5 linked regions of the Homo sapiens genome follow. The protein of the gene in region 5 purifies or fractionates together with the protein of the main gene of each other region. This does not show direct contact. Each region holds a gene or a part of one and is shown on either strand. Other genes may lie near its edges. The genes, in order: MNT, SAP130, SUDS3, KDM5A and MXD1.

Evidence for each region.
Region 1: the proteins of MXD1 (region 5) and MNT purify together in Homo sapiens (affinity purification with mass spectrometry, with the first as the bait; one large-scale study listed by BioGRID). This does not show direct contact.
Region 2: the proteins of MXD1 (region 5) and SAP130 purify together in Homo sapiens (affinity purification with mass spectrometry; 3 studies listed by BioGRID and IntAct, with this or other methods). This does not show direct contact.
Region 3: the proteins of MXD1 (region 5) and SUDS3 purify together in Homo sapiens (affinity purification with mass spectrometry; 3 studies listed by BioGRID and IntAct, with this or other methods). This does not show direct contact.
Region 4: the proteins of MXD1 (region 5) and KDM5A purify together in Homo sapiens (affinity purification with western blotting, with the first as the bait; one study listed by BioGRID). This does not show direct contact.

Annotation. Positions count from the first base shown.
Region 1 is NC_000017.11:2,394,222-2,398,837, forward strand, and holds part of MNT (max-binding protein MNT), read right to left. Parts: exon of another isoform or gene 4,568-4,616; coding exon of another isoform or gene 4,471-4,567; intron 1,234-4,470; coding exon 654-1,233; intron 126-653; coding exon 84-125; intron 1-83. UniProt on the Homo sapiens protein: Binds DNA as a heterodimer with MAX and represses transcription. Binds to the canonical E box sequence 5'-CACGTG-3' and, with higher affinity, to 5'-CACGCG-3'.
Region 2 is NC_000002.12:127,940,473-127,945,088, reverse strand, and holds the end of SAP130 (histone deacetylase complex subunit SAP130), read left to right. Parts: intron 1-2,551; coding exon 2,552-2,665; intron 2,666-2,924; coding exon 2,925-3,083; 3' UTR 3,084-3,867; downstream 3,868-4,616. UniProt on the Homo sapiens protein: Acts as a transcriptional repressor. May function in the assembly and/or enzymatic activity of the mSin3A corepressor complex or in mediating interactions between the complex and other regulatory complexes.
Region 3 is NC_000012.12:118,400,032-118,404,647, reverse strand, and holds part of SUDS3 (sin3 histone deacetylase corepressor complex component SDS3), read right to left. Parts: intron 3,990-4,616; coding exon 3,894-3,989; intron 2,890-3,893; coding exon 2,828-2,889; intron 2,666-2,827; coding exon 2,644-2,665; intron 1,237-2,643; coding exon 1,131-1,236; intron 1-1,130.
Region 4 is NC_000012.12:382,077-386,692, forward strand, and holds part of KDM5A (lysine-specific demethylase 5A), read right to left. Parts: intron 3,899-4,616; coding exon 3,821-3,898; intron 2,078-3,820; coding exon 1,955-2,077; intron 1-1,954. UniProt on the Homo sapiens protein: Histone demethylase that specifically demethylates 'Lys-4' of histone H3, thereby playing a central role in histone code. Does not demethylate histone H3 'Lys-9', H3 'Lys-27', H3 'Lys-36', H3 'Lys-79' or H4 'Lys-20'.
Region 5 is NC_000002.12:69,913,212-69,918,525, forward strand, and holds the start of MXD1 (max dimerization protein 1), read left to right. Parts: upstream 1-1,897; 5' UTR 1,898-2,119; coding exon 2,120-2,192; intron 2,193-2,909; coding exon 2,910-3,009; intron 3,010-5,314. UniProt on the Homo sapiens protein: Component of a transcriptional repressor complex together with MAX. In complex with MAX binds to the core DNA sequence 5'-CAC[GA]TG-3'. Antagonizes MYC transcriptional activity by competing with MYC for MAX binding.

The sequences.
Region 1 (4,616 bases), on a different chromosome or scaffold from region 5:
GGGGAAGCTGGGGCCGAGGGCCGCCGGGGCCCGGGTCGCGCGCGCACGCACGCACGCACACACACACACACACACACACACACCTGTTCTTCTCCAATTTGTTGTGGACTTCTCTGGTTCCGATCCTGAAACCCAGACAGATAGGAGGCTCAGGGAGGAGGACTCGATTAGACGGCCTTCCTGACCAGCGCCGCCACCCGCAAAATTGCCACAGGCTGTTTGTCCCCAACACTGTCTTAAAGCAGACTGGGAGACGTTCGCCCTGTGCCATGCTGCGCCCACCCCCTGGAGGACACATCTGTGCTCATAATCACAACTCCTGTCACCCTCCGTCCCACCAGGAGGGAGACAGGAGGACTCCTGGGACTCAGAGGCAGCCGGTTGACCCCAGCCCTCACCCAAGAGGCCCATACTCTGTCCAGAGGCCTGGGAATGCCATAAGCCTCAGCCTTGGACTGCGTTAGGAAACACAGAAGCCTGGGAACGGGGGGCAATGGGACATTCCTTCCCAGGATAGACATGGGCACAGTGATGACGTGTTCAAATACAGGGGGCACTTCTAAGCTGGGGAGGGCACCTTGTCTTGCACACAGCCCGGGGGATGGGCACCTCTCCTATCCCCCACCAGCCCGACCCCGCCACACCCCACTCACCCCCCGGGCCTCTTCTTCTGTTCACTGGATTTGACTTCTTCAGCTGGTGCCAACTTCAGGGTCCCCAGCGTGGGTGGGGGCGGCTGCTGGGGGGCCAGCTGAGGCTGGACTCCAGGGTGTGGCGCTATGGTCAGGACAGGCGTGGGGAGGGGCTGCAAAGGCTTGGGGCTGCCATTGGGTGGAATGGTGGCCTTCGAGTCCGGCAGTAGGGGAGCAGGGGTGGGCACCTGCGGCCTGCTGGGCAGGGGGGCAGGCTCCTTAATGCTGAGTCCGGGGGCGCCAACCAGGGCCGGCTGACGAGGCGCCAGGGGCAGAGGCTGGGCTGCCGCGGGCAAGGGTGGGGGTGGGGGTAGAGGCTGAGGGGAGTTGGTCACCACAGGGATAGGGATGACAGTCAGTGGGGCAGGGGTGGCAAGTGGTGGTGGGGGTGCCGGCGGGGGAGCCGGTGGAGACAGAGGCAGGGGTGGCGCCTCCATGCGGGGTTCCTCCACAGGAAGGGTATGTGCCAGCCTGGCCAGGCTATTGGCCTTCTTCTGTTCCTGCTCTCGCTCCTGCTCCAAGCGAAGCCGCTCCTGCTCCTCTACACAGAGAGAACACAAGGGGGGGAGGGTCTCAGCGGGGCCCCAGAACTCCAGCCCTAACTCGTCCTCTGACCCTAGCCCAGTCAGTACTCAGTGACACCCCTGCTCAGCGAGAGACACCACAAATAGCCTACCAGCCCAGCCAGGCACGGGGGAAAGTGCCGGGGGCACAGCAGTGAACAAATCAAGCAGACCTGTTCCCCGCCACCAGGGAATAGTAGGACAGTCACGGGGGCTGACAGTCACGGGGGCTGACAGTCCGGGCTGCGGGCAGGACAGGCGGCCCTGGAAAGGTGGAGCAGAGCTGTCAGAGGGTGCTGCAGGCCACCTGCCAGCCTGCAGGGTGAGGAGGAAGGCGGGTGAGGGCAGCGAGGGTCAGGGGACCACAGGGCCGAGGTGGGAGAGGCGGGCAGAGGCCCAGCCACCCAAGACTTCACACCAGAGGGGGGGGTGTGCTGACAGATCCCAGCTTCCGTGGAAGGCCTTTAACAATGTTTACCAAGCACTTTCTAGAGGGCAGGCAGTGCCTGCATGGCACAGATGAAGTCAGTGAAGCTCAGGGAGCAAAGTGATTCGCTGCAGGTCCCACAGCAAGCCTCCTGACCCCTGGAGGACGCTTGCCGTGCTCACAAGGAAGTGCTGACAGTCCCTGGATCCTCACAAGAGCCCCACGTCACATCATGGGCAGGACAGGGACATCACCCTCATTTCACACATGTGGAAACAGCCCAGCACTCTTGACTCCGAGGCTAGGTCCCAATGCCTGTTTTCCTCAGGGACCATTCAACAAACACACTTCGTCCCTCTCTGACCCTTCTCGTGTTATAACTCATTTTCCCCAAATCCCCAACATCCCCACCACCAGCAGCAGCGCCAGCATGTCCTGTCCTTCAGGCCTAAAGCATCCTCTGACATCCTCAGTGACACCCCGCTCAGCCTGAGACAATACAAATACCCAACCACTCCAGCCAGGCACCGGGGAAAGTGCACCTGCCTGGTTCTGGGTGAGAGAGGGCAGTTGAGGAGGAGGAGGTACAGCAGCGACCATTTCTCCCAAACAAGAAGGGGCTGGGCTCTTCAATGGGGGCTGAGCAGGGCAGTGCACCCCACCACCCGCTCAGCATCCCTGCTGAAAGCCCAGCAGGAAGGCAAGGCCCACTCAGGAGCTGGCTGCCAACAGGGGAAGGGGAGGCACCTCCATCTCCCGCTTGCCTCGTCCTCTCCCAGGCGCCACCATTCTGGTTCCCTGGCTACGGGGCTGGCCCAGGCCCTTGGAGTCTGCAGACTCCAGGCCAGGGAGCCGCCGGGACAAGCAGCCCTCTCCTCTGACCCCGGACGCCCGCCCCGCTCCGCTGACGAACGCAGCAGACAGCCCGGGCTCGTGGACACGCCCCAAACACCCGGGCAAGGGGTGGCGTGGGGGACTGGAGTCGGCTAAGGCCCCCTGGGGAGGAGAGCACCCACCTCCCACACTCTTACTGGCTCAGGCGCCCCAGAAAACCTGAGGCCTCAGGCCCTTTGGCCAATCAACAACTGGAGTGTGAGCCAGGCCTGCTCCCAGCCCCGCCCTCCTGCAGAGGGAAGAGGCCGAGGAGGAAGCGGAGGGGGAAGCGTCCTGGGAGGGGAAGCCTCAGTGGTTTCCCAGCAGCCGGAGTTCAGGGGCTGGGCCAGCCAGCGGGCCTCTTCCAGATCTCCCTAGCCCTTCGGGAAGGGGCGATGCCAGGCCGGTGCAGGCCTGCTCCAGTGCGGGGAGGCCTTAGGTTACGCCCGGGAGAAAACCAGCCCTGCGCTCCCGCTTCCCACAGACCGCAGTGGCCAAGCAGCCTGCTGAGTTCCAGTGACAGGGCCCTTCTCAGTCGGGCACAGCCTCAGTTGTCCCCAGCCCCTTCCCCTACCCCAAGACAAGGCTCTGGATCCCAGGGCCTAACACAGACCCTGCCTCCATTCCTTTGGCTGACACAGACCTAACTTTTCATTGGCCTTGAGACATGGACTCCACTCTTTATAGGCAGAGGAACAATCAGGGCCCTCCCTGAGTCACAAGGACATGTGGGACCCTAGAGTGCAAGCCAACCCCCATTCCCCATATTTTAAAGCAATCCCAAAGCTCACCTGGGAGGTAGCAACCTCCTTCTCACCTGCCCTCTCTCACCCAGAACCACGCCGGTACACCTCACAGGTGCCAGGAAGGACCCAGTTACACCTGGAGCAGCATGAAAAAGCTCCACAGGTGGTGAGGAAGAGGAGCTGCCCCTGGCCAGATCCAGCCCACCGGAGCTTCCTGTCCCTTCCCACCCAGCGGCAACCCTCTCCCTGTGCACTGGAGAACCACCAAACTGGTGGTGGCTGGTGCTCCCTCAGGAGCACCCTGCGCTTAGGCTCTTTAAAAGAATGTTCTGCACATCCACCAGACAGGGTGCGCCCCCTCACATGCTTCCCTGGGCTCCACCCAGAGGCTGCCCCCAAAGAATTTAGCATGCCCCTCTGCAGTGACCCAGGGGCCAAGGCTTCCGCCCACAGTCAAGAGCAGAGCCAGCGTGCTCCCTTCAACCTTCCCAAGTGACTGTGGCCCAGGTGCTCTGCAGGCACAGGGCTAGGGGTGGAGGAGTCCACACTGGTGGGCCCCAGCAGCCACAGGAATTCTCCCATCTGCACGCTAAACAGGAGGCTTGGTGCCTAAGGCAGGCCCAGGGTAAGCCTTGGAGAGTTGGTCAGGAGCCTCTGGACACTCCAACCAACTCCCTCGAAACAAGGCAGAAGAGTTGCATCTGAGCCACCTCTATGAACACTAGAAATGACCAGGCCAGGCCTTCCGTCTGGGCACCAGGATAGCTCTGCCCTTTCCCCTCTCTCTCACAGGCACACACATCTGCGGGGTCCTCATGTGAGCAAACTGGCTGGTCTAGGTCAGAAACCCATGCTTGCGGTTGAAAGGGAGAAAGGACAAGAGGATCCCTGTCCAGAGCTGGTCCTAGGTCCCGGGAAAGCGTTCTGGTCAGCAGGTTCACCTGCCATGCCCTTCCTTCCATTCGTCCTGCCCCAGCTCAGAGGACAGAACCTCAAGAGGGAGAAGAAAATGAATTCTGGAGGAGAAACTGCTGGGATCGGTTCCGGACACCCGTACATGAGTTTTTGAGTAGATCTAGCTTTCCGCACCCACTCATCTACAAAGACCTCTGACCGGCACACAGAAGTCGTGACCAGGCCGCTGAACTCGGCCTAAACACAGTGCGTACTCGAACTGCAACGTGTTGATGGCGGCAGCAGGTGACTTAATCTCTCCGAACCTTGTGCACGGTCTTCCCCTGACCCCTGTGCCCAAACGTAGGACATTCTTGGTCACCAGGGGCACTCTCCACTGCCAGACCCTGCTCTGGACCAT
Region 2 (4,616 bases), about 58 Mb from region 5:
CTTCATACCACAGGGACCAGGCACACAATTCCTGCTCCTTGCTGAGTAGTAGGCTCCAGTTCCCTGCCAGCTTCCAGTATTCCAATTTCCAATGTTACTCAGATAAGCCAGTCACACACATCATCATTCAGAGACCGGGGCATACCTCTCCCTCTCTCCTGTTCTTTTTTTTTTTTTTTTTTTTTTTGAGACAAGGTCTTGCTCTGTTACCCAGGTTGGAGTGCAGTGGCACGACCATGGCTTACTACAGCCATGATCAACCTGCTGGGCTTAAGTTAATCCTCTCACCTCAGCACCCCCAAACAGCTGGGACTGCAGGTGTGAGCCACTGCACACAGCTGATTTTTTAAAATTTTTTGTAGAGGCCAGGCACGGTGGCTCACATCTGTAATCCCAGCACTTTGGGAGGCCGAGGTGGACAGATCACGAGGTCAGGAGTTCGAGACCATGGCCAACATGGTGAAACCCCTGTCTCTACTAAAAATACAAAAATAAGCTGGGCGTGGTGGCAGGCGCCTGTAATGCCAGCTACTCGGGAGGCTGAGGTAGGAGAATTGCTTGAAACCAGAAGGTGGAGGTTGCAGTGAGCAGAGATCATGCCACTGCACTCAAGCCTGGGCGAAAGAGCAAAACTCCCTCTCGGGGAAAAAAAAAATTGTAGAGACAGGGTCTCACTATGTTGCCCAGGCTGTACTGTGTCTTAATTTTTAACAAGTATAAAAAGTTAAAATTTTTTTTTAATAGAACATAAGGGGCCAGGTTCAGTGGCTCAGGCCTGTGATCCCAGTACTTTGGAAGGCTGGGGCAAGAGGATTGCTTGGGCCCAGGAGTTTGAGGCCCACCTGGACAACATAGTGGGACCCTGTCTCTACAAAAAAAAGTGTTTTAATTAGCCGGGTGTAGTGGTGCACACCCCCTAGTCCCAGCTACCTGGGAAGCTGAGGTGGGAGGAACTCTTGAGCCCGGAAGACCAAGGCTGCCCTTAGCCATGATCGCACCACTGCACTCCATCCTGGATAACAGAGTAAGACACTCTCAAAAAAAAGGAAGAAAACAAAGTTTATAGAATAAAGATACAAAGAAAGAAAATATTTTTTGTAACCGCCCAACAGTATCCACATTTGTCCAACAATATGTGTTTTAAGCTAAGTTTTATTGCAAAGGAGTCAAAAAGTTTAAAACAATTTAAAAGTTTATAAAGTAAAAAGAGTATGCTACGGTTAATTTGTTATTGAAGAAAGAAGAATATTTTTAATAGATTTAGTGTAGCCTAAGGGCACAGTGCTTATAAAGCCTACAGTAGTGTACAGTGATGTCTTAGACCTTCACATTCACTCCCTGCTCACCCACTGACTCACACAGAGCAACTTAACAGTCCTGGTAGACTGCATTCATGTAAGTGCTCTTTACCATTTTTAATCTGTCATGCCGTATTTTTGCTGTACCTTTTCTATGTATAGATACGTTTAGATACACAAATACTTAACACTGTGTTTCAGTTTCCCGCACTATTCCTTGCAGTAACATGGTGTACATGTTTGTAGCCTAGGAGCAGTAGGCTCTATCATATAGTCTAAATATGTGGTAGTTCATAACATCTAGGTTTGTGTAAGTACATTCTGTGATGGTCACACAACAATAAAATTTCCTAAAGACATTTCTCAGAACGTATCCCTGTCATTAAGCAGAGCATGACTGTATTTGTGACTCATAAACTGCTGTTAATCTTATCCATCCAGTGTTGGATCTTATATGTTTGGCCATTTCTATAACCCTAGGGCAAGAATCCCTCCTTCACCAGCAGGTGAAGAGGAGGCAACAACCTCATAAAGTTTTTCCTCTTCAGTAGCAGTGACCTGAAGAACATTGTCTGTTGTCAGTATCTAAAAAAATGTAGTGCCTTGGCTACTTCTGACTTAGCAGAAATCACTTCTATGAAACTTGGAGACTTGTGTTTCAGAAGAATTGTGGATTCAAGGCAGTATTCAAAAGTTATCCTTGAAGATAGGCTCTGAACTATGGCAAATTATAATGTAAATCTTTGTTGATCAGTTTCCTTTACTGTTTTTATTTTATTTATTTATTTATTTATTTATTTTTTAGATGGAATTTCGCTCTTGTTGCCCAGGCTGGAGTGCAATGGCGGGATCTCAGCTCACTGCAACCTCTGCCTCCCGGGTTCAAGCGATTCTCCTGCCTCAGCCTCCCGAGTAACTGGGATTGCAGGCATGCGCCACCACGCCCAGCTAATTTTGTATTTTTAATAGAGATGGCGTTTCACCTTGTTGGTCAGGCTGGTCTCAAACTCTGGACCTCAGGTGATCCACCCGCCTCGACCTCCCAAAGTGCTGGGATTATAGGCGTGAGCCACCGCGCCCAGCCCCTTTACTGTTTTTAAACCTTAGTATCTTAGTCCTTAGGAGAAAGGACGTTGTCACCCAAACAACTCTTAGACAGTTTACAAAGGTGATTGAAGGTGGGTTCATTTGCCTGGGGTTGACATAGAAAAATATTTCCGAGCTTATGATACCCTCCCTTTTGTGTGTTGCAGACGAATCTAGAACATGATGTCTATGAAAGACTTACTAACCTGCAGGAAGGGATTATCCCAAAGAAAAAAGCAGCAACAGATGATGATCTCCACCGAATAAACGAACTGATACAGGTTTGAGTGCGCCCCTTCCCTTCTGATCATCTACTTTATGAAGTTGCTTTCTGTAAAGCCCTACTTCTCCCGTTTCCCCCCGTCTCCCTCATATCTTCAGTAAAAACATACGTGCTTCAGCCTGCACTCCTGAGAAACAAAAAGACATTTTCTCTGTTGTGGAAGCCTCAACATGGCCTCTGCCCAAAGGCAAGCAGTTTTTTAAAAGCTGTACTATCCTCATGGTCACTGATTGATGATGCAATGTCTTCTGTTTCAGGGAAATATGCAGAGGTGTAAACTTGTGATGGATCAAATCAGTGAAGCCAGAGACTCCATGCTTAAGGTTTTAGATCATAAAGACCGTGTCCTGAAGCTGCTTAACAAGAACGGGACTGTCAAAAAAGTGTCCAAATTGAAGCGAAAGGAAAAAGTCTAGACCCAGAACAATCAGGAGATTGGAAGCAAATTTATGAAGAATGATGGTGGGGGTGGGGGGAGGGTTTTGGTTTTTTCCAAAGTGGAACATTGAAATAAAGGAAGTGTTCCTTAGTTCCCGTGTGAAAGCAGAGGAACCCATGACATCCAAGGGCGTGAAAGGATCAGAGCTGACTGGACATAGTGAGCTGCCTTCTTGCGTTCGGGTGCACCCCTGTTAAACCTGATCTGTGTCATAAGTGACTCCGGATGCATCAGTGTCCACCAGTTGGAAGCAATGACAAGGATGGCTGGCTGGTGTTTTTCAGCCTTCCGGTTTATAGACTGTATTTATCTAGTGGATTCCTGCAGGCCCCATACTGAGCCTGGACTGAAAGTATCCACTCGGACCATCTGTTATCTCTCTACACTGAAAATAAAACCTCTTCCACCCACCCCATTCGGTTCTTCTGCCTGACCTTCAAATGCCCATGTTGGCCTTTTACAGCAGTGCCACGGCACCAAGCGAGCTGCCACATCTCACACTCTAAAGGGTTTGAACTATTAGTTCTTGTCATTTTTTAAAAAAAACCATTCCCAAGTGAAATTGTTATATCGTCTGTCTTGCGTGTGTCAGAACTGGGTTTTTGTGGAGGTTCAGAGCAGGCAACACCATAAGTTGCTCTCAGATCCTTGTTCTGAAGTACATTCTTGGTTATCTGTACTTCTGTAGCTGGTGTGATGCTGTTAATTGTATGTACCACACATCTCCAGACGTTAATAAAGGACTCAAAGAGGTTTTTGTACTTGCGCAGTTTGCATCTTTTTGTAAAGTGAATCAGTGCCATACTGACCCTCACTGAAATGTTTACCCTGCTTCAGTTTTTCACACATTGTTGGGAGCCTACTTTGTTTGTTGAAGTTATGCTGTTCGCATAGAGTTCCTCTTAGAGGGTAGTCTAAATATGCTACAGTGGTGAAACCTGTTGGATCTTGGCTCCCTTAAATACGAGCCTGTATTGTGGCCCAGTGCGGATAAAAATTGGTCCGATTACAGGACTATTAAGGCTGCAGTACTGGGGGCGGAGCTTTCGGGCGGGTGGATCCTCTCCACACATTGCTCTTCGTCTGAACTAACCTGAGTGGAAAGGCAGCTCAGATCGGCTTCCTTTGGGCACAAGACCAACCGTCTCCATCTGGCCTCCATGTAACAGACCAGGAAAGATTTTTCTCAGAGGCTTCTGCCTCTGCAGACACGACGTGACCACCCTCCTTCCTTAGGACACCTGCTTTCAGCTACCAGGTTGGGGCTAGAGTGCTTCCCTTTGCTCTGAGTTGAACAGATTTGAGATGGGCCGTGTTCCATTTCTACCCATGCCTTTGGGACCAATGCCCTGGCTCACCTGAGACAGCCTTCCTCATAGTAGAATGGTAAGCTGTCATCTGTGGGATTGGGAAGACCACCCAGGCCTGCAGAGCCTAGGCTAAAGACAGCCTGGGCGCAATCGAGGCTGCTTGACTAGAGTATTCGATGAGGATATGGAGAAAACTTGAG
Region 3 (4,616 bases), on a different chromosome or scaffold from region 5:
TGCCTGCATATGGATAAAGAATAAAAAGAAATATATCAGAATGAAAAGACCTGAGAAATGATGGCAGTATCCATTTCATATCTAGCAGAAAGCGTAATACAGAACAGAAGAAATGTTTGTTGAATGAACAAAAGTATGAGCTTTTAAGGTTCTTTCATACTGTTTTGCCATTACCTTTCCAATGAAAAATGCTAGGCGGTCTGAACGTTTCAAAGAGTCTTCAATGTAAACCAGGAATGCAGGACACAGTGGCTCATGCCTGTAATCCCAGCACTTTGGGAGGCCAAGGCAGTAATATCATGTGAGGTCAGGAGTTCGAGACCAACCTGGCCAACATGGCGAAACCTCGTGTCTACTAAAAATACAAAAACTAGCTGGGCATGGTGGCGGGTGCCTGCAATCCCAGCTACTCGGGAGGCTGAGGCAGGAGAATCGCTTGAACCTGGAAGGCGGAGGTTGCAGTGAGCCGAGATTACGCCACTGCACTCCAGCCTGGCGACAGAGCAAGACTCCGTCTCAAAAAACAAAAAACAAACTAGGAATGTTTTAGGATACAGTTCCCCCAAGCAAGTGTCCTTGACCACTTTTGCAGCTGGATCATGTAAGAAAAAAGGGTATGTGTCATCAAAAAACATCTAATAACATCTTAGAAATTCACAGTGTACATTAGCATATCGCAGGACCCAAAGGGTACTACAAGGGAGCAACCCACTTATCTTAATTAACATGATCATCCCCCAAACTGATTTGACCACAAAATCCTTTAATCCGAAGAGCACCTATTAACCTTAGCACACAGGAGCAGAGGTAAGAGGGGTCAGAGGGGGGACATACACCCCAGCCCCAGTTGGCAGGGGTACCACACAAGATACCAGCCTGCAAATTCTAGTACAGAGACACCAGAATGGAGAAGGAAGGGGAGCAGAACATGGTTTTGGGAAACGCTGCTTTCAAAGATCCACCGGAAGTATTGATTAAATGACTGCTAATACATTTTTTAATGGGTTTCTACTTTTAGTACTATGTAAGTTTAGCAGCAGCCGTGATCTGAAATAACTACAATAGCCCCAGCCCTCTTTCCAAGTGGTTCATATGAGACTCTTACTAGTCCAGGTTTTCCCATAACATACCATCTTTTGTCATAGTACAGTTTGCCATCTTCTATCCGAGCTTCGAACCTCTGGGCTGGAGATTCCGCGGGTGTTGCAGGCAAGTGCTCAGGAGAGGATGGAGATGCTGGAGGAAACCAATACTTACGTGACTAAGAATGTAACAAACACATGCGAGTCTACCAGTTAACATGCTTTAATTGAAACACTATCAGAATGTGGTAATAATCATCACTGAGCCCTTACAGTGATAATGCATGGGATTTCAGCAAAACTCTTGTATATTCCATCTAAACTTGATCATCAAAGCAACCCTGGGAAGTAGGCAAGGCAGATTAGCCTCTCAAATGGAAGAGACACCTGGGTTTCAGGAAGATTAAGGTCAAATGTGCAAATACATAAGGTCACTTAGAGTAGGACTAAAGCCCTGGTGATCAAAGGGCAAGTATTATGAAAATCTCTTAAAAATGCAATCGTTTTCAGCAGGGTGCGGTGGCGCACACCTGTGATTCCAGCATTTTGGGAGGCTGAGGCAGGTGAATCACGAGGTCAACAGATGAGACCATCCTGGCCAACATGGTGAAACCCCATCTCTAGTAAAAATACAAAAGTTAGCTGGGTGTGGTGGCACATGCCTGTTGTCCTAGCTACTTGGGAAGCTGAGACAGGAGAATCACTTGAACCTGGGAGTCGGAGGTTGCACTGAGCCGAGTTCACGCCACTGCACTCCAGCCTGGCGACAGAGCAAGACTCCATAATCCAAAAAAAAAAAAAAGGAATCACTTAAAGAACTACTAACTTTACACTCACACAACTCCCTCACCCCTCCCCATCGTGCCTCAGAAGGTCAGGATGTCTGTGGACCGCAGTGGCCCCCAGGAAGATATTACCTAGAAAAAGAAGACTCTTGTTTTCTTCCACAAGACTCAGTAAGTAGAGGGATGTGTGAGTAATCGAGTAATCGAGTAATCATGGTGCTTTAAACAAAAAAAAGATGTCACCAATTCAGAATTCTAGTTGGCAGCTAGCACTGATGATCTCAAGTGCTGTTCCGGAAGGAACAACTATGAATACTGAGCTGGTTGGTCTCTTCTATGAACTGCGAGTCAGAGCAGCCTTGGAATGCCTTACCAGAGTCAGGCCACGAAAAGCCACGGGAGCAGAACTGCCTAGGACTTGGCTTTAGAAAGCCAGTAATACTTAAAAATCCTTCTGGTTTCATTTTCAAAAATGGATGTGTACTTAAATCTTATGCCTGATGCCTACACAGAAGGAAATCAATCAATCAATCAAATGTCTCTTTTATGATAAATCCTAAGAAAAAAATAAAAACAACAAAGCAGGGGTTATGAAAAAAAAAGAAATCAGGGAGGGGTATAGTTAAGGTCCCCTTCAGTTTTCATGATGACTACTCTTAGGCAAATGATGAACATTTCATTTTTGAAAATTGCAACCATTTCCTGACAGGTATTCACACCCTTTTCCAACAACATGATAAAAAGGTTGCACAAATGCCAACACATCATGCACTCACCTGGTCTCTTGGGTGACTTAAGCTGTAGGAAGAACAACAACAAAAAATCTTAGAGAAAATCATTTCAGGTGCAACTTCAGGTGTCAAAGGTATCATAATGATTAACAAGTAACATGTTAACAAACAAAATCAGAAAACCACAAAAGCCTGAGTTTTCAAATAAATCAAAAAAGTCAAACCGTACCTTATTTAATGTTCTCAGATCCTCCATGATCTGTTCATCTGTTAACAAATAGTTTAGCTGGGGTGTTGAGAGTTAAAGGACTGTATGTGAAAAGTACAGTTTCCAGGCAAAGAGTAATCAACACAATGGTACCAGTATTTTAGAATTTACAAAGTATGATTTTGTTAAATGATGTTTCTACAGTAACAGTTTGCTTCTTAGAAATTTATGATTCTCCTACTAAATGTCATGGTACTTCAATACATAAAAGAATTCACATCCCCCACTGCTAGGATGAGAAGGTGGAATGAGCTTCATTAGGCATCTACAATAACACAGCAAAGGAAACAGTAAAATAAGAATTTCATCATGAATGTATAAAGCGCTTTTGTTCCAAAGATCTAAAGACTTCCACACACACTCACCCAAGGTAAGGCCAATCTTCCCTCAGCAACTTAACTCCTGTTGTGAAGGAGAAGCAACCTGAAGTTATGCCCTTTCCTGATGGTACACAAATGACTAAGCCATTTTGGGCAGAGAGCTATTCACCATCTCCTCGAAAGGAACAGAAACAACGCTTCTCCATCTTTCCTGTTTCCGTTACCATTTTTATGATTAAAGGGCTGCTTTATGTCTGACTGAAATCTCATTTGCTTTAATTTAAAAACAGGTTGCAATCCACTACATTATGGACATAGATAACAGAGGTACATAAAGGTAGATATTACTGCCTTCATTTTACAGTTGGAAGGTGGAAAATTACAGGTGAAAAAATTAAGGCACATCAAGTTTTCAGATGCCCCTGAATCTTGATGTTAGCATTAAAACCAGGCTGAACTTTGCATGCAAAGCACCTTTCCAAATCACAACTCTATACATCTCTCCCACCAAAAGCAGTAGCAAATGAGGACTACCATGATAAAATGAGCAACCCCTGACCTGTGGACAAACATTTAACACACGCTTTCCAGTTAAATGTTACTATTTTCTGTAGGACAACGGCCATGTGTACCCTAGCAAACGGATAAACATAGGATTCCACAGTCTTAAAAAAGAAAGGCGGTTAAGGCTTGATGTAAATGGATATCTGGAGCAGGTTTCCTCCTCTTGTCTGGGATGGGGACGGGATCATTTGGTCGCCTCCGCAACTTTCTGGTCATGATAGGTTTCACCTCCATAGAATCTGTGGCAAGAATGGAATGGGTAAATCTATCCAACTCCCACTTGAAGTCAGTAAGAATTTCTATAGTATAAGAATATCTGCCCCCCAGCCACCCAATCAGAACTGTTTTACTGGGGGTGTTTGTTCTACACATGGTCGTAGCCAGACACCCCATTAGATTTTAGAAAGCGTTTATACTTGTAAGATTCAGACCAGCTGCCCTAAGTGCACACCCCTCTCAGAAATGCAGCCCTACCGTCAAGCATTACAGCCACTGTGGGCATCTCTCCAGCACCCTCAAAACCTAGGGGATATTCCTCCTCTCCCTCAAATTAAGAAGCCCAGAGTCACAGGCTCTCGGGATAGGAAGGAACCTGAAGGTCATCTCAGCTGACTAATTTCTGCAGCTCCCAAAGAGGGTGGGTGTGCTGAAGCCCATTGGTATGAAAGGCTCTTTTAGAGGCCACTGGCCTCAGTGCCAACATTTTTATACGAAGTTTTCATTTACAGACTCGGATTTTTTTTCTCTATAACCTTTTGTAGCTACTTGACTATCAAGATGACACAATGAGGGCTCACAATAAAAGCCTCTTTCCCTTCTTCTTCACTCCTCTCTGTGGTCTCACACTGCTGCTGACTCCCCACGCC
Region 4 (4,616 bases), on a different chromosome or scaffold from region 5:
CTGGGATTATAGGTATGAGCCACCACATGCCACGAATTATTCTCATGTTTTTCCTTACAAGTGAAATCTTCCTGGCCACGCATGGTGGCTCACGCCTGTAATCCCAACACTCTGGGAGGCTGAGGCGGGTGGATCATCTGAGGTCAGGAGTTCGAGTCCAGCCTAACCAACATGGAGAAACCCTGTCTCTACTAACAATACAAAATTAGCCAGGTGTGGTGGCAGGCACCTGTAATCCCAGGTATTTGGGAGGCCAAGGCAGGAGAATCACTTGAACCCGGGAGGCTGAGGCAGAAGAATCACTTGAACCCGGGAGGTGGAGGCTGCAGTGAGCCGAGATGGCACCACTGCACTCCAGCCTGGGCAACAAGGGCGTGACTCCATTTCAAAAAAAAAAAAAAGTGAAATCTTCTAAAAGTAACTGCAATTTAAATAAGAATAAATTTTTATTTCAAAATAGTATATAAATTATAAGATATGAAAGGCCACAAGAAGAAGTTGTTTTACAAAATTCCCAGATAATTAAGCAATAATAAATTTGTATTATTGTAGTAACAAAACATATTTTAGCCGGGCGCGGTGGCTCACGCCTGTAATCTATAATCCCAGCACTTTGGGAGATCAAGGTGAGCGGATCACGAGGTCAGAAGTTCGAGACCAGCCTGACTAAGATAGTGAAACCCCATCTCTACTAAAAAATACAAAATTAGCCTGGTGTGTTGGCACATGCCTGTAATCCCAGCTACTCGGGAGGCTGAGGAAGGAGAATTGCTTGACCCTGGGAGGCAGAGGTTGCAGTGAGCCAAGATCAGGCCATTGCACTCCAGCCTGGACACAAGAGCAAAACTCCATCTCAAAAAAAAGAGAAAAAAACATATCTCAAGGTTATTATAATCTCAGCTTGCAGGTCAGTTAGTTTTTTTTTTTCACATTAGGGAATATAATGTTAAAAAATTAACACAATTTCAGCAAAAACTTGTCTAAACTCTTCACCCTTAAGTTTCTGAGCTGTTTGGTCATCCTACTGAATAATGATGGCCTCAGTCAGCCATTAACACTACATACACGTATTAACAAAACTAATATATACCACACATAAGAATGCTGAGAAACATGAGTTTCTTTAATATGCCAAATTTTCTCTTTTTTTTTTTTGAGACAGGGTCTAACTCCTGTGGCCAAGGCTGAGGTGCAGTGGCGCAATCACAGCTCACTGCAGCCTTGACTTTCCGGACTCATGTGATCCTCCCACCTTAGCCTCCTGAGTGGTTGAGACTACAGGTGTGCACCACCATGCCCAGTTAGCTTTTCTGTATTTTTAGTAGACATAGGGTTTCACCATGTTGCCTGGGCTAGTCTCTAACTCCTAGGCTCAAGTGATCCTCCCACCTCAACCTCCTAAAGTGCTGGGATTACAGGCATGAGCCACCGTGCCTGGCCCAAATTTTCAATTAAGTAACAAAAAAAAAGATGACAAGCTCAACACAGAACATTGTACACTCAGCACAAGATAACATTAGCAGGCTAGAGTAATTTATTTTGCATATTGTATATCACAGAGCCTGATAAATATTAATATTTAGTAATTAAATATTGATCTCAACAAATATAAAATAAGTTTTAAAGATAACTTTGAGAACTGTCATTTCCATTTATTCAAATGTGCATTTCATTGTCCTTTTTTTTTTTGAGACCGAGTTTTGCTCTTGTTGCCCAGGCTGTAGTACAATGGCGCGATCTCAGCTCACCACAACCTCCGCCTCCTGGGTTCAAGCAATTCTCCTGCCTCAACCTCCCGAGTAGCTGGGATTACAGGCATGCGCCACCATACCCAGCTAGTGCATTTCATTGTCAAACAAATCCTCTATTGGAAGCAATGTTTCCTACCAAATCTATTTGATATTCCTAAATTCACAAGCCTGTGCTCTAATTTCTAAACCAGTATGAGCCTCACCTTGCTCAAAGCATACAGATCCAGGATTTTTCTCTCTACCACAGGGATCTTCAGAGTAGATCCTTGAAGTTCCCAAAATTTTGCTAGTTGATCCAAGAAATCCAATCTCACTCTGGTCATTGCCTAAGATTATTAAAATACAGAAGAACTAAGTTATGATTGAAATGAATAAGAATAACAGAGCAGGGGTCCCCAAACCCCAGGATGTGGACCAGTACCCATCAGCGGCCTGTTAGGAACCCAGCCACACAGCAGGAGGTGAGCAGCGGCAGTGGGCAACCAACCGGGCAAGCATTACCACAAACCCTATTGTGAACTGCGTGTGAGGGATTTAGGTTGTGAGCACCTTTTGAGAATCTAAGTAATGCTTGATGATCTGAGGTGGAACAGTTTCATCCCAAAACCATCCTCCATACCCCCATCCATCCATGGATAAACTGTCTTCCATGAAACCAGTCCTTGGTGCCAAAAAGGTTTGGGACAGCTGTAATAGAGGTACTCATTTCTCTAAAGAAATTCAAAGACTTTTTTTCATTATTGCTTATTTCAACCCTGTAAAACTAGCCAATAGTAAAACTAGCCAATAATAAAGAGGCAAAAGACTTCTAATAAACTATATTTATTCAGGCAAAAAAGTTACTCTGATTTATGTAAAAAGTTGTCATATTAGCAACCAAAACAATTTTTGTAAGTTGGTTTAACTCTATGCTGATCAGAAAATTCAGTAGATCGGATTCTCTTCAGTCTCTAACGTTCTGTCATTTCATCCATATGTAACATGCACACTTTAGGTGCATCAACTCTATACCTCACTGATACTAATATGCTTTGTCAAGTATCTAATTACAAGAGACTAAAAAGAAAAAATATGCATTGCGGCCAGGCGCGGTAGCTCACGCCTGTAATCCCAGCACTTTGGGAGGCCAAGGCGGGCAGATCACCTGAGGTCAGGAGTTCCAGACCAGCCTGGCCAACACGGCAAAACTCCGTCTCTACTAAAAATACAAAAATTAGCTGGGCATGGTCGCTGTAATCCCAGCCACTAGGGAGGCTAAGGCAGGAGAATCGCTTGAACCCGGGAGGTAGAGGTTGCAGTGAGCCGAGATCGCACCACTGCACTCCAGCCTGGGTGACAGAGCAAGACTCTCTGGAAAAAAAAAAAAAAAAAAAGTATGTATTAAACTCTCAGAAATGTTTTGGGGAGAAAAGAAAAAAAACTTCAGAATGACATAATAAACCTTTGCTATCAATAATTTTCCTTCTGTACTCTAAAAGTTTTCATATCACAATGAAGAACCTTCTGAAAACCCATAAACAGAAAAAACAGCAAAACGTACACTTCCATTTAGAAAATTTAAGATAAATTAGTAATACTTAAAGTAATTAAAAAATAATACTTAAAGTAATTAAAAAGTAATACTTAAAATCTTAATAAATCAGATTAACACTCCTGGCAAAGTTCCATTAAAACCAAAACCAAAACCAAACCAAAACAAAACAAACTCTGAAAACTAGGGTTTTAAAATAGGATTTAAAAATCCATTTTCCAAGAACCGAGGGAGAAAGAAATCTTCCAAGATTAACAAAAATTTTAGTAGAGTAAGAAACACTAGAGAAAGTAGAATTTAAGAATTCTAAGTCTCTGAAGCTAAGCATTGAACATTTCTCAGTTAAATGGAAAAACCATAACAACTTTGCACAGTTTTTAAAAAATCATACTCTTCCTCCAAACATCAAGTAACTATTCCATTCAATACCAATTAACACAAACTCTAGGCTGTGGTACATGAGCTTCTCAAAGTTCTCTACCTACAGCCCTAATATAAAGAATGAATCAGGAAGCAGAAATAGTGACAAAACACTTACCTCAAGTTCATTCAGGCGCTGGACTCTTGGAGTGAAACGAAAGCTTTTTACTTCACAGGCAAATGGAGGCTGCCAGTCCTAAATAGAAAGATTTTTTTAAAAAAACACAGTGGTATGTAAACAAGGAATGCATTAATTATTCCCTTAAAGGGGGGTTTTGCCACAAATCATGGTGCTAATAGACTAACTTACAAGTCTTCTTTATTATAGAGACAGAATGAGCAATTCTTTTCGATAAAATAATTTTAATACAGGTTGAGTATCCCTCATCTGAAATGCTTGGAACCAGAAGTGTTTTGGATTTCAGATTTTTCCATATTTTGGAATATCTGCATATACATAATGAGATATCTTGGAGAAAGAACCAAGCCTAAATACAAAATTCTTTTGTTTCATATAAAGTTATACATAGGCTAAGGTAATTTTATGCAATATTTTTAATAATCTGGTGCATAACGCTTGTGTATACTGGACCGTCAGAAAAGAAAGGTGTCAGTAGCTCAGCCACCAGTGTGGACAATTTGTGGTTGTCTGGCATCACCATCATTCCTGACTGTGAATTTACATGCTACCAATAAACAATCATTTCCTTACACTTATTTCCACTTAAGTAGTTAACAGAAAAAATATACCATACCATTAATACAATGAAAAAAATAATCTGTTCAAGCTGGGTGCAGTAGCTCATACCTGTAATCCCAGCACATTGGGAGACTGAGGCAGGAGGATCGCTTGAGCCCAGGAGCTTAAGACCAGCCCAGGCAACAGAGCGAGACCCTATCTCTATAAAAGAAAA
Region 5 (5,314 bases):
TTTCCATGTCTGCAGCTGAATGCATGACAGGGAAAATCATTTAGCCTCCCTGGGCCTCAGTTTCTTCACGTGCAAAATGTAATTAACACAACCTACCTCATGGGGTTATATTGAGGATTAGAGATAATGTAGGTAGGATACCTACACATAGTAAGCTATTATATATTGGCAACAATAATAAACTTTTAAAAAAAGAAATATGTTCATGCTTTACTCATTTGTATTTTGGGGACTCAACCTACCAAGAACTTTATTTCTACTTTTAAAATTGGAGATGTCTGTCAGTACATTGGCAGTGTAGCTTGGTTTGCCAGATAGCTTTCATTTCAAAAATTTTAATAGGTTTAGGGACCGATCTTTAACCTTTTTAGTTCTGTATACGTAACATTCTATTAAGCATTTATATTGGTACCACCCCATGCGGAAACACACAATTTGCAGACGTCTTAAAGAGTATTCTTGGCCGGGTGCGGTGGCTCACGCCTGTAATCCCAGCACTTTGGGAGGCTGAGGTGGGTGGATCACCTGAGGTCAAGAGTTCGAGACCAGCCTGGCCAACATGGTGAAACCCCGTCTCTACTAAAAATACAAAAATTAGCCGGGCGTGGTGGTGGGCACCTGTAATCCCAGCTACTCAGAAGGTTGAGGCAGGAGAATCGCTTGAACCCGGGAGAAGGAGGTTGCAGTGAGCCGAGATCGCGCCATTGCACTCCAGCCTGGGCGACAAGAGCAAAACTCCCTTTCAAAACAAACAAACAAAAACAATAATCTTGTGAGTGTTTTCATCTAGAATTAAAAGGGAGGGGAAAACCCCAAAAGAGATTTAAGCAAAGAATCTTAGGGTTTAATGCCATTCTGTAGGTTCAGGAAGTCTCTGAGCTTTAAAAAGCCGCTCGCGTGAAAGTAATTAATTATTCCATCACTTCCCGGGGGTGGAGGGGGGTGCGGAAAAGGCGCATGAGCTCAATGCTGTATACTGCAGCCCGATTCCAGCTCTTTCTTGAGGGCAGAAAAAACGCCGAGCGGCGAGCATTTAACAACGGCCGGCTTTTCTTCTCAAGCCCCGCAGCAGCCACGTGGCGCCTGCCCTAGCTCCCGGCTCACCGGCCACTAGCCTGCACCGCTCTTCGGGAGGATTCGAGGCTGGGCCCTCGCCAGCCCGAGTTCCGCGAAGCCCAGAACCTCCAGGGCCGCGGCCACCAGACCGAGGGCTCCGGCCCCGAACCCAAGCGGGGCAGAGCGCCCAGGCGACACGAGGTGCCAGCCTTCCATTCGATGGACGCCTGGCAGGTCCCCGGAAGTTTTCCCCGGGGACAGGTCTTGGCAACAGGTCCGAGGCAAGGCCGGGTGGAGCAGAGCTCCGCAGCGGCTGGTGAATCAGCGCCGCCCAGCGCCGGACCGGCCCTCCCAGCCAATGCCAGACCCGGTGAGGAGCAGCCAGGCTGCTGACCATCAGCCACTTAGGGCTCGCCTGGCCTGGAGAAAGGTGACATCATCGTAGCTGGGAGGTTTCCGAAGGCTTCACCAATGGGAGACCGGCGAGGTGCTTGCCTTCTGCAGCTCTTGGCCAATACTAACAAAGCAAAAGGGGGCCCGGGTTGTTGGTATAGAACCAATGGGAAACAAGGAAGGAGCACGAGGCGGAGTTGCGAATCCTGTCACCAGTTGGAAAGAGGGGGTGGAGCCCGGGCCTTGTCAAGTGTGACCAACCAGCGAGAGGAGCGGACTTTGCGGGGTGGAGCCCTGAAGCCCTCTCCCAATCGCACAAGTGTAGGGGCGGGGCATTCTTTGGGGGGCCCAATGAGGAACGCGGCCGAAGCTGGCCTGTCAAGAGAAGGGGCTGGGGGCGGGGAGATGGTGAGTCGGGGATAAACACTCCGCGGCGGTGGCGGCTGCTGCTCTGCTCCGGGTTCTGTCACTGTGTCGGCGGTGCCCAGCTCACTGGCCCCCTCCCTCTCTTGTCGAGCGTGGTTGCCAGAGAGGCTCCCTCAGCCCTGCTCCGCGGGGTCCACAGCGGGCTCCACAGCGGGCTCCATAGCGGGCTCCACAGCGGTCCGGCGGCGGCAGCGAGCCCGTGGGCAGTGGGGGTTGGTCCCGTGGCTCCGGCCCCCGGTGCAGAATGGCGGCGGCGGTTCGGATGAACATCCAGATGCTGCTGGAGGCGGCCGACTATCTGGAGCGGCGGGAGAGAGGTGCACGGGGACGGGGAGGGGTCCACTCGAAACGAGGCCGGGGGTCCTGTGGGGCCGGCCTCAGGTCCGGGCGCCCAGCCGCTCCGGGGGTGGTTGGAGGCGGGGAGACCGCGAGCGCTCCCAACCCCTCTGGCTCTCCCCACGCGCGGTCCGAAGGGAAGCCGCCGCTGCCCCAAAGCAATGAATGGGGTGGAGAAGGGGCTGCCGCCCGCCGGGGTCCCGAACGCCGCCCCTTCCCCAGCCCTTCACGAGTGGGTGGCCGGGGCCCCCTCCGATAGCCTCCCTGGTTTACCTCACCCGGGCTGGTCCCGGCCGGCCCCCAGGTGGGCCCGGCGCCCCAGTCTCCTGGGCAGAGGAGCAGCGCCTCCCGGTCCCCGGCTCACGGTGCTTGCCCCGCACCTTCGCCTGAGCTGGTTCCACTTAACCCGCACCAACCTGCTGGATGTAGCCAGTGGGAAACCCAGGCTGCGTGAGCCTAGCCACTACTGTGTCTTTCTCAACAATGAGCAGCTGGAATCCTCCTTACACCTGCTCCGAATTGACGATATTCACACAATTTTTTTTTAAATCATTGTTCTCAGAATTCCACCTTACTCCATTTAATTATTTCCACAATATTCTTTTAAAGATAAATAAAGGAAAAAGGAAATACTGTAGAGAGGAGAGAGCATTAAATATTCTGGGCCCATTCATTAACTGGATCCTCCTGTTTTCTAGAAGCTGAACATGGTTATGCCTCCATGTTACCATACAATAACAAGGACAGAGATGCCTTAAAACGGAGGAACAAATCCAAAAAGAATAACAGCAGTAGCAGGTAATTTGGTAAATACTTCTTTCTGTCTTTTAGATTATATTGTAGGTGACACAAACTGCTGAATGTAAGTTTTCTGTTGTGATTATAACCCTATAAAATTACATTGTGGCCGTCATGATTCAGTAATGTACACATGGACTTAAGCCATTGCAGGAAGCTGTTTCTGTTTGGGTTGAGGGAACTGAAAAGAAAAATAGAAATGTTTTACATTTCTTTATGAACTTTATTCAAAATTTAATTTCACTTTTCTTCCCTTTTGGAACAAAAAAATCTGTGGAAGCTTCAAGTGAGATTAGCAATGGTGACAGTATTTTCCCTTCAGAAGTTGCAGATTCAGGGCAAGTTTTCTATAAGTCAAAATGCTGGACATTATCCATTTCTTTTACTTTTCATAGTAATGATTTTATAAACACATTAAAGTACCTGACTTGGCATAAGTGATAGGATCTCATACTTGACATGTAAATTAAATACAGTGGTTTGTTTGATACTCTAATTTGTCATCTCTATTTGTAATGGCAAAGAGGAATGATTGAGGTTAAAACCTACCTCTTTAGTGATAGAGGAATATATAATACCAAAATATTAATATGCTACAACTTTTCCATGTTAGCCTTATCGATTATCTTATACCGTAGTTCTTAAAAGCTGTGAATCTCACTGGAGATTTGGTTCATGGTCAGTTAAATCACATATTAAAGTCCTATGCATAGTTTCTGGTACATGCAAATAGTCCATCAATGTTGCTGCCCGTTTCCCCCCTTCTTTGCCCTTAAAATATAGTTGGCTAGGAAATTTGTTCTATTAGATCCCTTCAACTATACCTTTCCTGCCAGTAAATTAAAAGCATTGACCTTTTCGTCACTAGTTTAGAATCCTTATCCCTCCCTCACCCTCATGAATAACTCCTTGCAAGTATCTATTTGGATATCCTCTGTGGCTTAATACAGACCAGGAATTTCCCACTTAAACCTAAAAATCACTTGTTCTTGCTGCGTCTTCTGTACTTGGTTTACCTCTTTAGTATCGTTAGTGGAACCACAGGATGTGAGCAGCATTACTTGTGCCATGCCCTTGAATAAAAATGGCACTTGAAGGATCAACCTGGTAATTACCTGGTAGGTTTTGCTTGTCCTCCCACCTTAGCATTACCTGAAGGTGGTAGCCAGTAGTTTTGTGCATGGGTATGAAGGCACTTTAAGAAAGATGTTAATACTGACTTGTAATATGCAATGGTGTAAAACCAATTAAGCTGTGTTGCATTTTGTTACAATATTTTTTTAATTTTGTTTAGAAGAATTTTGAGGCCTTTCAGTTAATTTTTCTGGAAAAGCATCATCCATTTTTGCTTTTATTATTGTCCACTAATGATTTGAGAGGAATTGTCCAAGTTACTTATTGAGGCTTAATACCTTAACACTTTGTTTTTTTCCTTAGTTTCACAGGAAGGTTGTAGGGGATGTTCACTAGTGGGGATAAGAAAATGAGATGTTGAAGTGGCTTGGTCCCAAAAGGTGATTAGGAAAGAAAAATAATAGTAGTTAAGAATCTTAAGCCAAGAAATGGATTCTTTCTAGTATCTTCTCTTTAATAATCAGTACTATGCCAAAAAAAAAAAAATAAAGGCTACAAATCCTTCTGTTAATGGGTTGGTTTGCTTTCCATGGTTAGAGACGGGATTATCACAGTTGTCCATACACCTGACTGATAGTGAGTTAGTGTAATATATTCAGTGGTGTAAGGATTTCTGAGAGACCATGATTAAACCTAGAGGTAGCACCAGCCAAACGTGTGAGGCAAGAGCAGGCAGTTTTCTTTCAGTGTGATCATTTCCTTCATGACTCATTTGGAATAGCTCCTTTTCTGAGGAACAAGCAATCATAATGGAGAAAGCAGCTTGACCCCATGGTTTGAATCGGCTTTATATCCTCAGCCATGTATGGTCAGAATTTTGAACTGAGGTAAAGGATAGGGAGAGATTACTGCTGGTTTACATAACCCTTGGATAACAGTTTATTCTTGTTCTTACAGGTTGAAATGCTGTGCTTTTTGCTTGTAGAGTCTAGGGAAGTACTTTTCCTTGGACAATAAAAGATAAGATTTTGCCACATAGGAAACTTCTTGGGAACTGAAAATGCAGATCTTATTCACGTTTCTCTAGTTGCTTATTAAAACAACAAAAATGAAAATGAAATTGTGAATATCAATTGTTTTTGAAATTATCCATAGAACTGCTGGAATATGGGAAGATGGAAGTTTCTTTCCTACTGATTTTTGAAGTCAATTACTAATTATTTAGAATTGA